Regions from separate parts of the Homo sapiens genome. Here region 1 is linked to region 2. Evidence: fine-mapped QTL for protein levels in blood plasma. A gene starts in region 2. The other region holds a variant in brackets. All regions are shown on one strand. Distances are between the middles of the regions. Region 1 overlaps TNFRSF19 (TNF receptor superfamily member 19). Region 2 holds the start of TNFRSF19 (TNF receptor superfamily member 19).

Evidence for each region. A credible set is the group of variants that fine-mapping cannot tell apart. PIP is the chance, under the fine-mapping model, that this variant and not a neighbour inherited with it causes the effect. Sun 2018 read protein levels with aptamers (SomaScan).
Region 1: its variant is the best candidate, but not a certain one, in a credible set for the plasma level of the TNFRSF19 protein (Sun 2018, PIP 0.87).

What each region holds. Positions count from the first base shown.
Region 1 is chr13:23,606,372-23,614,714 of GRCh38, reverse strand. The region is part of intron 3 of TNFRSF19 (TNF receptor superfamily member 19); the gene reads right to left. Among named protein-coding and RNA genes, the nearest start is that of TNFRSF19, 40 kb to the right of the region's middle. The variant C/TGC (reference allele first, on the strand shown) is at 3,589.
Region 2 is chr13:23,565,436-23,573,778 of GRCh38, reverse strand. TNFRSF19 (TNF receptor superfamily member 19) reads right to left here and starts at 3,367. Exons shown (of 10, transcript NM_148957.4): 1 at 2,931-3,367. RefSeq lists enhancers at 4,932-5,443, 5,444-5,956.

The DNA.
Region 1 (8,343 bases), 41 kb before region 2:
CTACACACTGTTGGTAACACCTGTTGTCGGTCTTTGTGATGGTTTCTATAGAACACTCATCATTAACAAAAAACAGACAGTGGCTTAAGAGCAAGAAGGGCACCCATGCAGGCAGCAGGCTGGGCATGCCCACAAATGCAGACTGGATGCTGCAGAGGAAGAAAGGCTTGCAAGAAACCTCAGTTTCCTCATTTGTAAACCCTGGATGCTAAAATGCAAGTCCCACCTAGTTCAACATTCCCATTTTTTCTGTAAAATTTACATATTTTAATTTCTTCATCCATATTTGTATACGAAATCAACTAAGCAGTACTTATTGGCCAAAAATTAAATGAAAACCAACTTGAAGGATAGTGCTGCCTGTACTTAATAAACTACTCAACAAAGGATTCGGAGGAATCACTTCCATCTAGATTTTTACTAATTAACTCATTCACATTTTGGGTGAGTGATACTTTCTTTCCTCCTTTCAATTACTCTGCCTGTCTTTCAAACGTACATCGGGAGTGTGCACAACAAAGAAGTGAGGAGAAAAGGGTGGAAGGTCAGCCTCCTCCTCACTCCTGAGAGCTCCAGCCACACAATGTTCTATATCAGAGGCACAGAGAGGAGGGGGGAGACAAACAACACTTGATTTAAAGAACTGATTAACAAGTTAGAATTTCTTTAAAATTGTTAACAGGGATTATCTCTTTCAGAGGAGGGGAAGATTAGAATTACGGGGTGGTCTCAAGTTTTACAGTTCTGCAAAATGTAATTTTTGCAAAAAGCATCCATTACTCTTGTAATAGGAAAACAATAAAGATGCATATTCAAGGAGAATTTCTCTGGACATGTGCTGGGTCTTTGCGGGGTGATCATTGTGACTCTGGCTCTGGGCTGGGACAGCTGTGTTTTTGCTGAGCACTTTGGTTGCTGGGAGAGCTGTGTGCAGGCACAGGCTTTCTGAAGTATAGGAGAGAGCCTCCCACTCCCAAAGTCCCTTGGGATCAAGGCACAGGTGCACGTGACCTTCTGGGGGTGGTCTCCACCTTGTTCCCAAGCTAGGGTTCTCCACAGCAAAGGTTCAGGAAAGAGCAGAGTATTTCAAAATCACACTTTGATCCAGGCAGCTTGAGGTTGTAAGAGTCTCATGTACGAGTTAAAACACAACAAAGGAAAAGAAGAAGGAGGAGAAGTACAAGGGAAAGAGAAAGGAGAATGCAGAGAAAGAGGTGCATTAACTGGAAATAAATGTCCTTGGAAATTCTGTTTCAAGCCAGGTCAACATAGGAGAAAAGTATGTATTTTCCTACATTGGATCTAAAGAGACATGAGTTTGAATGCCAGCTCTGCCACTTGTTGGCCAAGTTATTTTGGGAATTCTCCGATCCTCAGTCTCTTCATCTGTGAGATGGGGATAAGAATACCTGCCCTAAAGGTTGTGTGAGGAATAAATGGGAATGCATATAAAGTGCTCAACTCTAAATCAAGCACGGAGTGCACATTTCCTAAACAAATTATACCTATAAGTGTTAGGATTTTGGATTTTCTACAATCCAATAAATAAACCAACTTTGCTGATTCAAGAATCATAAAGCTTCCCTGGAAATAAGGGGATCATCAGACCCCAATTTCCATCTAAGACATTTTTATTGACTAAGAATCTTTCAAAAAGAAATCATAATTTTCTTAATTAAAACAAGTTTAGTGGAACACAAACTCTAATTCAACCCTATCTGAGTCAACTGCTGCACCGTGCTATAAGAGCCCTGCGTTCCTGCCAGTCAGTCATTCAACTGTGGCTCCCTGTCCTGCTGACTGTCTCCAAGTCACCTCCTCCCTCCACTGAGAAACTGTACAAGTAATCCAATGGACTAAAAGTTTTGAGTGTCACAACTCTTTTGAAAATGAACATACAACTTAATGTGGTGGAGGTCTTTGTGGTTATTTTTTGGCAAAATAATAAAATTCATTGATCATATCCCAAATACTCATGGGAACTTTCATAAAGACTGTTTATTTGGGAAATTTTACTTAAAATAGATTTTCTCTAAAGTATTTACTATTTTCAAAAATGTAATATTTTTAAAGCCTAATATTAATTTGAAACTATTAAAAAATAGCCTGCAGTTCATAAAAGTCTAAGAAATTGATGAAGTGACCATTCTACACATTGAATTAACTAGAAACCATGAAATAACTAGAAATTCAAAGAAGGTGATTCCAAGAAATTAAATTACAGTATGGTGTCCATGACAGCAACTGCTTTTTGAGTTGACTGTCATATTTCTAATGCACCTTAAACACAGACTCTGTAATTACTCATAATCCAGGCTATAAAGTAAACTACATATAAATACTAAATTACCCCCAATATAAATGTCTGCTTTGATGTTTTCATTTCATTCAGTAAAGCTGGGTGGTTAAAATGCCTTGAAATCTTCCCCATTAAGTTCAATAAATAATTACCAAGAACAAAAGAAAGAGGGAAAACAGCTGAAAGGGAAGCTCGACAGCCTCCAACCCATGGTGACATTGGTTAGCACAGATTGACACTGCCTTCACAAACTTGTGTCACCACCCTGGCCGAGATCATTTCTTTTCTTTTTATCATTCGTATACTGAAAAACTATTACACACATGAGATTTAACAAAAATAATCAAACAGTACACCTTTCTTCCCATCCCTGCTCCTTAACTTCCCACTCCCCCAACACAGGTATTGGGGTGACCTGCCAAAAATATCCTCCTAGCGTGAGTGCATGTATTTAACACTGTTCTGCAACTAGATTTGTTTTCCCATGCCATACATCTTGGACAGTGCTCCATATCAGCAAATAGAGAGTATTCCCTTGCATGGATAGAGCTGGAGCTGTTCTTACTCACCACTGCACCCCAAGTCCTGGCACAGAGAGGGTATCCATTTAGGTTTGGCCCACTGCATTTGTATTGATCAGATGACCTAACCATGCAGCAAATGAAAATAGTATCAAATCTTTTTTGTTTTTTCCCCCATAGGGATAGAAAGAAGTAATTTCCCTAGGTATATTATTTCCTGCTGCAGGCAGACAAGTAAGCAAATAAATAATGAAATGAGCTATGTTTGAGTTTAGCCTTTTGACAAGGACTCTCTCCTTGACCAAACTCTAGATAGGTTCTTAGGAGCCACTCTCTGTTGGGCCCTGTCCTCAAGAGCCCAGTTTCCCAAAAACCTGGCTAAATCTGGCCATGCTCAGTATCTTCTCAGGTTCCTCAACCCTCACCATCTCCCAGGTGATGCCTGGTCACCCTGGCCTGTCTTCAGCAAGAATCCTGTGAGGTCATTTTAGCCAGAATCTCCCTCACCTCTGACGGTTCCTCTTCATGATTTTCCATCCACCAAACCCAGCCTGCTCCTTGGCTATATATCCCCACTTGCCTGTGCTGTATTTGGAGTGGAGCCCAGTTCTACACTGAGCTTTCATTTCCTCTACTGCAACAGTCCTGAGTAAAATCTGCTGTTCCACTGTCCAGTTCTGGGTTTTCTTTGACACTTTCCAAGTTGCACTAGAGTTGTCCCTCCCATCATGGCAAGAGAAGGAGTGTGTGTGTGTGTGTGTGTGTGTG[C/TGC]ACATGTGTGTGTGTGTCTGGTGAGGGGAGGGCAAGGAGGGTATAGGCAGAGTATGTCCATCTTTAGCCTGGGCTTCAGGATAAGGGATATGTGATTATGTTTATGGAGCATGGTCCGCCATTAATATCAATGGTAGAAATGCATTTCTGTTTTAAAATACCCCGTAGTCTGTATTCTTGAAATTATGACCTGGTACCTTAAAAGCTTGAAGGAAGTACGCAGTACTTCCCCGAATCCTTGAGAAGACATTTTTTATCAATAAACTTTAAGATGGGAAAATATATGCATAGATAAAATAATAATGCAAAAAAAGGCATTATTATAGGGCCCCTACTTACTTCCTAAAATCATATGAGAAGTGAACAACCCATGGTATCCAATGCCTCCCTCCACCTCTCCTTCCCAAAAGCCTGGTATCTAACAGGCCGGTGAATAATAAATAAATGCCTGCTGATAAACAAACGGATGAACAAATATTGTTTAAGGTAGTATTTCCTAAATACTTTAAAAAAATCCTAGGGAGCAATAGCTTGTAACGGCCCCAGCAAGGGCTCCCATGTGGTGAGGCCATATAGTCCTCCTGGGCTGCAGGATGGCAGGCAGGGTGGGCTGGGCTGGGGATGTCTGGGTGGAGTGGGGTCAGCAGCTTTCCTTATCTTGGTCCCAAGGGAGCAGAGGGCTGGGTTCAGCTGGGCTACTTCCACCCAAGCTGTAGCTCTGTCACTCTGCCCAATATTTTTAAGCCACATTTGGTGGTTTTCCAGTAGCAAAATGACTCAAAGTAAACAGTCCCCAAATCCCCTTCTCTCTTTTCTCCTTCTGCAAATCCAGCCTTTAACAAAAACATAAGCGGGTCCTACCTACAGGTTGGAGGAGCAGCTCTTCAGACCACAGGGGAAAACTCACAGACCCTTGTTGTCCAGGAAACACATTCTGGGCCTTGGGTTGAAAGCACTATTTATTTGTACAGCCAGTGCGTTATTAACTGCAGTCCTTTGAACTTTCAAAGTTAAATGTTAAATTTTAAATGTGGATGGAGAAGTTATTTGAAGGGAGAATCTAGGGCATGCAAATGCAAATGACAAATTAGATTTATGTTGCTGGTGCTTAGAAATCAACTTTTAACTTCCTTTAATGAAACAACATTGAAGAGATATTTCCCCTCAACTTTCAGTTTCTAAAAGGCTGTGCTTGAGTTTTTTAGAGAAAACTGACAAGCAAGGGCTCGTTAATATCTTACAACCATCCCTAGGCTAGATCAGCTATAATTAAACATAAATAAAGTGAGCAACACTGTCATTAAATGGCAGAAATGAATCTCATTTTTTATGCTTACAAATTAATTTTTTTAAAACTTTCCTCATAGAGACAAAAACAGTTTTCAAAAATGTAAACATCTTCAGAAATATGAAGCTGGGTATGCCCCGTGCGGAGGAAAGTATGTTGTTGTTTACAAGAGTTAATTTTTTCACATTAACTAAAGTCCTCCCAATAATTGGTTAGAAAAGTTTACTTTGAAAACTGTGCCAGAGACTTGAAGCCTGTTTCAAGTGGTTCATGCAAAAACTAGTTTCCTGATTTACTGCTGCGAGGCGATCGTGTTACAAGCACACTGTTGGCATTAATACGAGTGAGGAGGATGGGCTGGGGCTGGGCGAATTCTAGGCAGTAAGAATTAAAAGTCTAATGTGGTTACTTCAGGAAAACAAAAATCATCCTCTCCCACATATCCCAAAGTTAGGTTTATTTTTGGGAGCTGAAAGGATGCCTGATGGCCGAGTAACCCTCACCATATTTATGGTTCAGAATGCCCAGCAGGTACTACTTATGGGGCGCCCAGAACAAGCTTTTGTATTTTTTGACTCTGAAATAGGAAAAATATTCTGAATTATCTTTCTCATACACTTTCAAAATCGAAATCCTGTAGTGGAGGAGAGATAGGGTAAATATGGCTCAATGGGATAAAATCCTCAGACTCCACATGGCTCAGCGACCTGTCATATATTTTCCTAAAAATGCAGGAAAGATAACTATGTATTAAGCAAAATTTCTAAAAAAGAACTGAATGGGAAGAGATGCTGCTTGGGGCTTACAGGGAAGGAAGCAAAGGAACTAGCGAGAGGCGCCTGCTCAGAACGCCCAGGGCAACAGCATCTGGCATGAGGAGCATGGAGGACCGGAAACAGATGGGTCGGGAACTGGTGGCAAGGTCGAGCGTAGCTCAGAGGAAGAAGGACAGGAAGAAGGCTGACCAGCAAGGCAGCTCCCGCAGTGCATGTGCGTTAGGTCAATATGATTCTGGTATCTCCTTGTTTTACAGGCTGGTCCCATGCCAGAATTACTGGAAGAAAGTTAATCATTCTAGAGCTGTACTGTCCAATACAATAGCCAGACCCCATGTGGCCTCATTTAATTTTCATCAATTAAAATGAAATAAAATTCTGTAAGTGTTCAGTAACCGCAGTGGCTAGTTGCTCGTATACTGGATAGAGCAGATAGAGACCACTTCCACCATCACAGACAGTTCTATCAGAGAGAATTGCACTAGGCTATTTACAAAACGAGCAAGAGATTGCTACTCCCACGTGGCTCCACCACTCCTTCCTCCCGCACTGTTACTTACTAGCAGTGACAATGGACAAATCAGTGAACCACTGTGTCCCAGTTTCCCTGTCCATAAGATGGGGATGGTTATATTCCCTATTTAAAACATATGTTGTAAGGATTCCATTATTTAATATACAAAGATCACATAGTACCTGGCTTACTGTATGAAAAATTAGCTAATATTATCTTAGTTGCATAATATGTATTACAAGAGATAGCTCATATTTATGTTAACAGATGTCGTTTACATGAACATAGCCCAAGATATCCAAGGTAAACAGTTAAAATAAGAATCTTTTAAAAGTGGCCAAGGAAGAGAAGGGTATCATCAATCTAAGTCAGCAACAGTATCGGTGGACCTGGAGCTGCTGTGCAGACTTCTTAATACCTAATAATTGAAAGGAAGTGAAAAGAGGCTGGGACCTACTGACCACACACCACTGGTGGGTCAAGGTGTAGACTGTATCCAGGAATACGATTCCAGAAGCCCCAGCCAGCCCTGACTACACATTTTTATGGTAGAAACCTAACTAACAATGGAAGAGATGCTCAGATACCTTGGGAAAAAATAGAATTGAATGCCTTCCAAAGAAAATAATAATTAGGAGAAATAAAACCGCAGAGGAAAGTTTAACTATACCTGCTTAACCAAAGCACTTCCAGGCTTTAGTTTTAAGGCACAGGTACATGTTTGTAATTGAAAGAACCTCATGACCCAGAGTGCGTTATTTTAGACAGATGGACTGGAGGACAGAAAATGTCAGAAGTTTTAAGATACCTTTAATACAGAGAAGCAAATAACATAACAATGTTACAATAAAAGTTATTTGAAAATGCTAATGGCCTACTAAAAAATGTACTTTTTACCCACAATATAAAAAAATCTTTTGTTGTATATATCAATAGTTTGGTCTAGCTTTTCTTCTTTTTCATAATTAACTTTAAAAAGTTTTATGTTTACTCTGCTTTCAAAATTTCAAATACCATAGGTAACCAAAATTCTAAGCCTCAGTCAAAAAGGGCCCTGAGACTTGTTTAATTACAAATTAAAAGGTATCCCTCCAAACTGTCTATCTATTTATCTATTTATTTATTTCTCACTTTGTCACCCAGACTTGAGTGCGGTGGTGCAATCTCGGCTCACCACAACTCTGCCTCCCAGACTCAAGCGATTCTCCTGCCTCAGCCTCCTGAGTAGCTGGGATTAAAGGCGCCCACCACCACACCTGGCTAATTTTTGTATTTTTAGTACAGATGGGGTTTCACCATGTTGGCCAGGCTAGTCTGGAACTCCTGACCTCAGGCAATCCACCTGCCTCGGCCTCCCAAAGTGCTGGGATTACAGATGTGAGCCACTGTGCCTGGCCCAAACTATACATTTAATATCTCAAGCTTTAAAAAAGATTATTTATAAACGTAGTTGTCTGAAAAAAAATTTAAAGCTTAGTCTTAGTCAAAAGACTAAATTTTCCCTTGATTTGTAAAGCTTGGAAGTGAAAATTAGCCAGTTAAATGTAATTTTAATTTCAGTGATTTATCTGACTTTAATATCCTCATAACTTATTTTTCTTTCCTCTGAAAGACATATGCTGTTGCAAAAGGAACAATGAAAAGAAGAAATCACAAATTCATGAATGGACAATTTAAAAACATCTAACATTAAAGTAACTGCTTATAAAAAGCTCAAGCTCTCTGAGTTAAGTGGGGTGGAAAATAAAAATATATTTATGTTTTCATTTGTGTATCTGAATCCTTTGCCTCTCTGTTGTATGTTAGAGCATGAGCAAAGTTAAGTTGCTGATTTTATTTATTATGAGCTAAAACTAAGAAAAAAGACTTGGCAAAATATATGATTTATAACATATACACAAATTCATTCATTTTTATATTACCAGATTTAAGTGTCACTTTTTTTTCCAAGTAATATTTGAGATTAACTGATTTGTTCACTCATGTACTGTGTCAGGAGCTGGGTGCTCTGTAGATACAGGGTAGAAGACTGAACAACATGGGCTTCCAGGTGGACAGCTCAGGGCAGGCATGTGGTAACATGGTATACAACTGTGCACCTGAGTGGGTCCTAAGAATCTCATTTTTCACTGGCATTATTACCTTTACTTTTATTGCTCCTCATTCAATTTGTCCTG
Region 2 (8,343 bases):
AAGATATATTTTTTCAAGGAAGAAAAGCAAAGAGATAATGAAAACATGCTCAAGAGTCTTAACATAATCAAACATGATATGAAACACATATCATATCATGTTTGAAATGCACATTGAGTTTGTCAACTGAAGTTTCACAGAATCCCACTGGGAATTTCCCTGGAGGAAAATTAACCTTTAATTATTAAACTGTTTTTGGATGCCACTGGCATCATCTAAGAAAATATCAATTCCTTCAAAACACACAAATATGTGTTGATATAATGCCAAACTCGTATGTACACACACACACAGAGGCAAACACACAAATACATATATAATTCCACATCACATTGATGCATTAAACTTTTTGTGAAAATTATTTTACGTGTTAAATTATGTTAAATTATGGGTAGCAGCTACTGTGTTTAGACAGCTTAGAAGTCCAGAAGTAGAAGGAACAGTTGGAAAATAATCAGACGAATCCAGCTGACTGACATATCTATCATGGAAACAAAAAAAAAATGCACTACAATAGGAAGTGGCTGTCTTTATTTTTCAAACTAATATTGTTCTTTGATGAGCTACAGAGTGCATTTGTTTAAGCAGTTGTTGGAAAGCAGACCCTGCATGGTAGACTGGAAAGAACATTGGACTAGAACTGGGAAAATCAGCCATGTGACCTTGTTAAGATAGGGACATTCGTTTTCTATAGCCTCAGTTTCCTCATCTGTAAAATGGCCATAAAAATTCCAATTCTGCTTATTTCATAAAGATGATGTGATCAACTCCCTCACTTCACACATGAGGAAACTCTCTTGAGGTCATATAGCTAATTGGTGACAGTATCAGGACTCAACATAAAAGTCTTTTGAAGACTTGGACTTTCTGTAGTAACAAAGCTGCCATTGAAGCAACAGATAGGAAAGTGCTTTGAAAAATGTCACATAAGGGTTTTGTTCAGTAGAAGTAATAGGACTATATCTGCCAAAGTCATTTTGTGGCAATTAATTAGGAAATGCCTTTTGAGACTGTACCTGTACCTTCAGATACAACCATCTTTATTTTAAAATCAAATACACTCTATTTCATTTCTCAACAATGACACTAGAAGTAAACAATTAACTGAATTAATTCAAACACTGAAGTGGATTTTCAAGGACTTGACTTGCCCAAGCTAGTTTTCTACAAAGCCTAAATTAATCAGATAATTGCTAATTCTCCCCTTTGTTTTGTGCTGAGGAGAGCCTGTATTTGTTAAAATGATCCTAGTAGCAGGATAAACAGTCATTTTAAAAATTTTAAAATCCAAATCTGAACTAAATGAGCAAGTTTCAGACACACTATTTCTTTAGGCACCATCTCCAGTCATTGTTTTAAAAGGCTAATTTTCTTTATCTGAATGTGAACATTAATACCACTTTTGTGATTAAAAGGAAGATTTTAAGCAAACAAATTAAAAAAAAATCAAACTAAACCGATATTGCAGGATATTGTGAACATGATTTGTTGTACTCTTAGAAAAAAAAAGCAAATGCCTCTCCTGGCATGACTAAAAACAGCAGTTAAATCTTTAAGATTAAGTTATTAATGACACACTTTAAAAATATAATCAGTTTAGCATGGCTTTAAATAACCTCCACTTAACAACTAGCAAAGTTTTAAAATTAAATAAACAATGCTAATTACCCTTCTAGTATCAAGAGGAAAGTGTAGAAAGTAATTTAATTAATTGGCTGTGAAAAATTAATTACTTATGAAATGAGACTCATTAGACCTTTCCTGTTTCATCAGAATTTCAGACTAAAGGATAACTGGTCTTATCACTTATGGTTTCTTTATGGTTCAGCTAGCATCAAATAGACTTGTGATAATAATTAAATATTTTGCCCAGATAAATTTAGGACTAGAACATTAAAAAAAAAAACATCGCGAACAAAGTAACAGTGTTACTTTTCCATTGTATTTAGTTTTTATATTTCACTGTAAAGATTTTACTGTGTGTGTGTGTGAGCGTGAGTGTGTGTGTATCATGAACTGACAAAAAAATAACAGTTAACTTTCAAATTCGGTACAGCAATATAATTTGGTTTTGTCATGTTGGGCATTAGCTAAAGTGAAAATGTGACTAAGATACTTTATGTAACATAATAACTGTTGATTACTCAGATAGTTTTCATAAACAGTTGGCAAATTTTGACTTAAAACAGCTGTCACTATAAATGTAAAGTAAATGTTAATTTAGGAATATTAACCTTGTGAATGTTTCTGTAAATAAGGCTTATGCTATTTCCAAAGGTTATAGAAAATCACTGGAGTATTTTTAGCCAAACTTAGTGCAACTTTATCCTCACTGTTTTTAAATTCTTCAGTTTTACACATAAAAGTCTTTAATCATACTTGATGGTTTTTCAGTGATTCCCTTGAGTGTACAAACTGCATAAGGAAGTGTATTTGATAGATTTACATCTTGGAAGTGAGAGAATAAATAAACTAAAGAAACAGTATTGCCAGAGATACATTTTACTCTTTTATATAAGAAAACAAAGAAAGCATTTTCAACAAGCAAAGTTGCACTGACTGTTTACTAAATAAGGTAACCTGTAAATACTTAGAGCAATTATAGCTCACAGATCTCAGGGGTTGAAGTACCAGTTGCATGCTAAAGTGAGCGCTGTTCTGTTTTGTCCTGTTTGTACAACTCATTTCCAAGTAAAATTTGTATGACAGACTGCAAACCCTCTTGTACAAACTACTAAAAATTACATCAAGTTCCATAGTTACTCTGATACACACATTCAGCATCATGTAGTATTCAGCTGTATAAATGCTTTCTAAAAAATTAATTAAAACCATTCTTTTCTCAGAACACATGCGAAAAATGCAGTGAAAGCTATAACAAAGCTTAAAACAGAGTACCTGCAACATGCTGAGCTCTTTGCAGTACTTACCCGTTCAGCAACTTAGTTTCTCCTGGCAGCACTTCTGTGCCAAATGCTTCTACCTTCCCAAAAATGTATGTCAGCACAAGCCCAGACGAAACTTCAAATCCAGGAAAATAAAATTAACCATGCAGATCAAAGGCAGACGAGCAGGGAGATGAAATGCCTGTAATCTGATCAGTGAATCAGTTGCTGAACATCAAAGGCAGGGCTGAGTTTATATATATGCATGGATATCAAAGAAAGTTCACTTTCAGCAGGTAGTTACCCTCCCACCTCCTAGTCCACAGACTCTTTTGTTAAACATGGATCACGTTGTTTTCCTCCTCTTTTTTGCAATGAGGCAATGCTGGTAGTTCTCCCATGCTTGGGCTGAGTGGCTGGATCTGTAGCTTTTTTGGTTCCCAAGCTGTGTTGTGGACTGTGTGTTGGAAGCTTTTCCTAGTGCCAGCGGGTTCTGCTTTATCCCTTTCATCTCGCTGAACTGCAGATCCCATGACATCATTCAGCGCCGTGGGACTGGTAGGAGAGCTATAATTCAGCCTGTGGGGGAGTATAGCTCAAGAGAAGCCAGAGTTTGGCTGATTTCTAATCATGTTAGACTATTGTGCCTCACACAGGACAGTTTCTGTTATCTGTCTGCCAGCTGGAAAGGACAGCAACTGCTGCTGGATGCTTCTTGGGTGATAAGATCCCTGATGGATGGACGTGCCAAATGACAGCATTTAATTGCCTCTTCGCTGATAAAAATCACAATTTCCTACAGAGACTGGGTGTCAAATATTCAGCATAGTTAAATAGCACTATGAGACCACTCTAAAAAACACCCAAGGACACTGCCAGATGGACCGATAACATTTTCACATTTTGATTCCAGTTTTCAAAGTGACAAGTCTTTAAGGATTTTAAGGAAACTGCCCTTTCTTTGAAACATACATTATTAGGATCTGATTACCAATCAAACCGGGTTGTGTTAAGTAGTTAAGCAGCAGATAACCAACAATTCATGAATAAACTGCCATCTTCCACTGGCTCACTTAAGACTTTGGGCGGAGACTTAATCTCAATCTTTGCCTTAGTTCGGGACTCTGGAAATTAGATTTTAAAGCAATATCTACTTCTTAGACATATTTCATTAATACTTGTTGAGCATTTTAAAATTCACAAAAGAAGAATTATGTAGAACAAAGCATTTGCCCTGTGATTATTCCAAAGCCATGTTATTTGCCTTTTAGGGCTGTTTCTTCCGAACTCATAGTTTGGACTTTCAACTCACTAAAAAATTACCACCTTAGCCTAATTCTTCGTATTTTAAAATTAAATATATTGCTCATTATTTAAAAATTTTAAGCTATTTTCCTTAACAATGTCAGATTCAATACAATATGATTATTTTATTTTGAGTATTTAGTAAAATAGAAGATAAGAAGAAGTTTCATCTTCCTTGAAATCCAGGATATGGTGCTTTTCTGATTTTCAGACAGTTCTTTCATGGAATGAAGACAATTTTTCTATTTTATAATGGAAACTCACTAACTTTTAGAAAGTAAGTTAAAAATATTTTTGCAAAACTTAGGGGATAGTAGAACTCAGTCTTTTTCAATGTAACTTCCCTCCTTAACTGGTTTTGTCTAATTTTTCCTGACGCGATATTTGAAAACGTTATTTATGAAGTGTTTATTTCCAGATTTCTATGATTCTTGAATAATTTTAATAGCAAAATATTTAGTTTGAACTGTTCATAAGTTCTGTATAACATTTAAATAGTCCTGTTGATTTTTCCATGTTTCTTGTATAATTTTTCTACTTATACATCATTTCTCAAAAATGCACAGGGCTCAAATAGTATTTGAACTGGCAGGTGTGATGCTTAAGGACTTCCTTAAAGCAGACCAGGAAAATTCCTGTGACATCTGGGCTTCACATACGTTTCCTGGGCATCTTGAACCCATGAATACAAAGAAAATATTTACAAAGACAAAATATTTACAAGAAGGCATGTGCCCATTTCTTTTCTGAGGTAGTCCAAACCTACCACCAGCATGGAATCCATATGCCAACAGCCTGCACTCAGGATTAAAGTTTCCCGATACACTGATATATTAAATCAGAGCAACTAGACACTCTGTAAGGCTCATTGGCTAAGCAAGTAGATTTTATGTCTTTATAGATTTCAACACCAGTAGAAATAGGTGAAGGACTGAATTCGGGTTCTTGTGTTCCACTGAAAAACATACAGGAGGCACTTGAAAGCAGGGACTTGAATGAAAACCAATCAAATGATCTTCAATTTATACAAATCTCCCCAAGCAAGCTTTGTAGTTCAAGATACATCCAACAATGCAATACCATCTCCAGTGGAAGAGTTTATTCACCAAGTCACTGGATATTATTTTGAATTGGTCCTCTTGTGGCCAAGAACTCCCCATATGTGAGATGAAAGGGGACTGAGGCTAGGGCCCCATCTGTCGCCTGGACCAGAGTGTGGCTAAAGGTCGGCCTGGCTGCAGGAGTGACCTCTTGACCTGCGGCTCATTTAGCACTGTGCCCAGCCAGCCGAGCCCCCTTCGTTGTGAGGTGTGGCCTGCACCATTGTTGTTTCTGAACAGCACCAGGAAGGGGAGCTACTACAAAGCTTTTCTCTTTCCCCTTCAAGAAGCTTAGATTAGTGTGATTAAATCAGTGTGATACAGTGGTGATAAGAGATCCAGCACTCCACTCGACATCATTGTCCGTTGTCATGACACCAAGTTACAGCATTTGATCAATGGTTCCTGTGCCATGTTGCAGTACACTTGGCTCATCTTAGTCTTTTTGTCAAGCTGCCTTTCAGCGACCTGGTTCTGCAAAGTGGTTGTGGCAGCCATTGGATCCACAGTGGGGAGCTCCAGGCTACACTTTAAAAGAAGTGGTCAGTGTTTGAGATGACGGGCATGCCAGTTACCCTGATCTGATCACTATACCTTATAGGTATAGAAATGTCACTAGGTGCCCAGGGATATGTATAATTATTATTAATCAGTTAAAAAATAAAATAAATGATTGAGAAAACTTCAGTTGTTCATATCCAAGAAGGGAGGGGCTGCCTGAGATTCCTGATGGGGAGTGGGGTCTCATGTCACCCCCAGTCGCCACCATGTGCTATTTTCTTCCCAAAACTTGGAGCGTGGTTCCTTTGCTCCTTTATCTTGACAGGTGGATGCCATGAATTCTCACCATTTTAAGATATAGATCAGGTGATAACACATTTTCCCCATAAAGTTTCATAGTTTTTTGAGTTGTCTGCATGTCTTTTCTAATGCCGTCTTTTCTAACTTTTCTGTTCAGAGGATATATCCTGGATTAGATCAGATAAACACAGATCTATTACATACATTGAGAGGAATAATTTCTGCATTTGTTTCAACTGAACACTTTTTAGAAAATGAAATAGCTCATGGTTATGAAAAGAACACGGATGCTGGAGTCAGAAAGGCCTATGTTCAAATCCCTCTTACTACCTGTACTTGAATAACAGCTTAGGCAGTGTGGACGAAGGCTACCTAGTCCCACTGAGCTTTTTAATCCTAAGCTGCAGGAAGGGGATAACACCTACCTCATTAGTGTTGCCAAAATAACAAACTTATTTCGAAAGCATCAGGCAGAATAAACCCTCAACAGAAGAGCTAAGGTTCCTTTCTTTTCTCTGTAACTATTAAAATGCCAACATTTTAGCTAGGGGATCCAATTCAAACTTCAGTATTCTAAAGGGGCAGGACAGGCTCTCACACAGCTCCTGGGCTGGTTATTCAAAGCCAAGGTAGCCCAGACATCCTCAGGTCCTTCACAATGCTGGGACCACTTGTACATGATCTGGGACCAGTAGCTGCTATCTGGGACTGTGGTCCACATAATCACAGAAAGAAAAAGGCTCAAGCCTGTTATGGGTTGGATTGTATCCCCCTAAATTCCCATGTTGATGTCTTGTCTCCCAGCACCTCAAAACATGAGCTTATCTGGAGATAGGGTCTTTACAGGGGTAATCAAGTTCAAATGTGGTCATTAGGGTGGGCCCCAACCCAGAATGACTGATGTCCCCATAAAAAGGGAGATTTAGATAAAGAGGCAGACACTCATATAGGTAGAACACTGTGTGGACATGAGGATGACCATCTACAAGCCAGGGTAAGAGGCCGGGAACAGACCTGTCCCTCACAGCCTCAGAAGGAACCAACCCTGCTGATACCTTGATCTCTGACTTCCAGCCCCCAGAACTGTGCGAGGACATACTGCTGCTGTTGAAGTCTGTGGTACTTTGTTATCACAGCCTCAAGAAACTAATACAAAGCCACTATCCAACAAACTACAAAGAGGTACAACTCCCATTTTCCTACATATTCTGAAGCCTTACATTCTCCTCATCAGCATCTGCCTCCTACAAAGCACCCCCAGCTCCAGTGGACACCCCCTGCCCTTCTGGACTCCCTCCGACCTCGTGAGCAGAAGACGCCTTCCTTTTCTTAAAGGGCCAGTTCAGGGGTACTGTTCAGTGAAGCTGAGTATGACTGAAAGTCACTAAAGGTAACTGGGATAGAACCCAGTTTCTGGCTACTGTAAATAAAGCTGCCATGAACACTTCATGAACCTGAAAGAGCCAATCCTTCCAAATGGATCCTGAGTGGCTAACTGGGTCTAAATTCAGAATGGAGCCAGGTCACAAACGTCTTCTGCATTCTCTGAGAAACCACAGGCTCGCGTGATTTGGGGACTTTCATGGCTGTCTGCTCCTATTTATGCTCCCTGATTTGATGGGTGCTGGGAAGTCTCATCTTGACTTCTGGATCTAACAAATAGACTTGTGACTTGCATTGACCAATCAAAACCAAACATACTTGCATCCCTCTCACTTGCAGAGCAGACCAGAGTGGGAATCTGGGTGGGAGCTTTTTCTATAAAGGATAACCTGTCTCTCTGTTCTCAGGGAGAGCATCTTTGTTTTGTACTGAAGGCTGGGTCTCCCTGGTTTGCAAACTGCTTACAGGAATAAAATCATTCTCTTTTTTAAGGAAGATCCTTTTCAGTGGATTTGTTGATAATACTTGTGTACAAGTCTTAGTGTGGATATATATTTTCATTTTTGTTAAGTAAATATGTAGGAGTAGAATTTCTGGATTATATGGTGTATGTATGTTTAACTTCAAAAGAAACTGCTGGCTGGGCGTGGTGGCTCATGCCTGTAATCCCAGCACTTTGGGAGGCCGAGGTGGGTGGATCACAAGGTCAGGAGATCAAGACCATCCTGGCTGGCACGGTGAAACCCCGTCTCTACTAAAAATACAAAAAATTAGCTAAGCGTGATGGCGGGTGCCTGTAGTCCCAGCTACTCGGGAGGCTGAGGCAGGAGAATGGCATGAACCCATGAGGCGGAGGTTGCAGTGAGCCG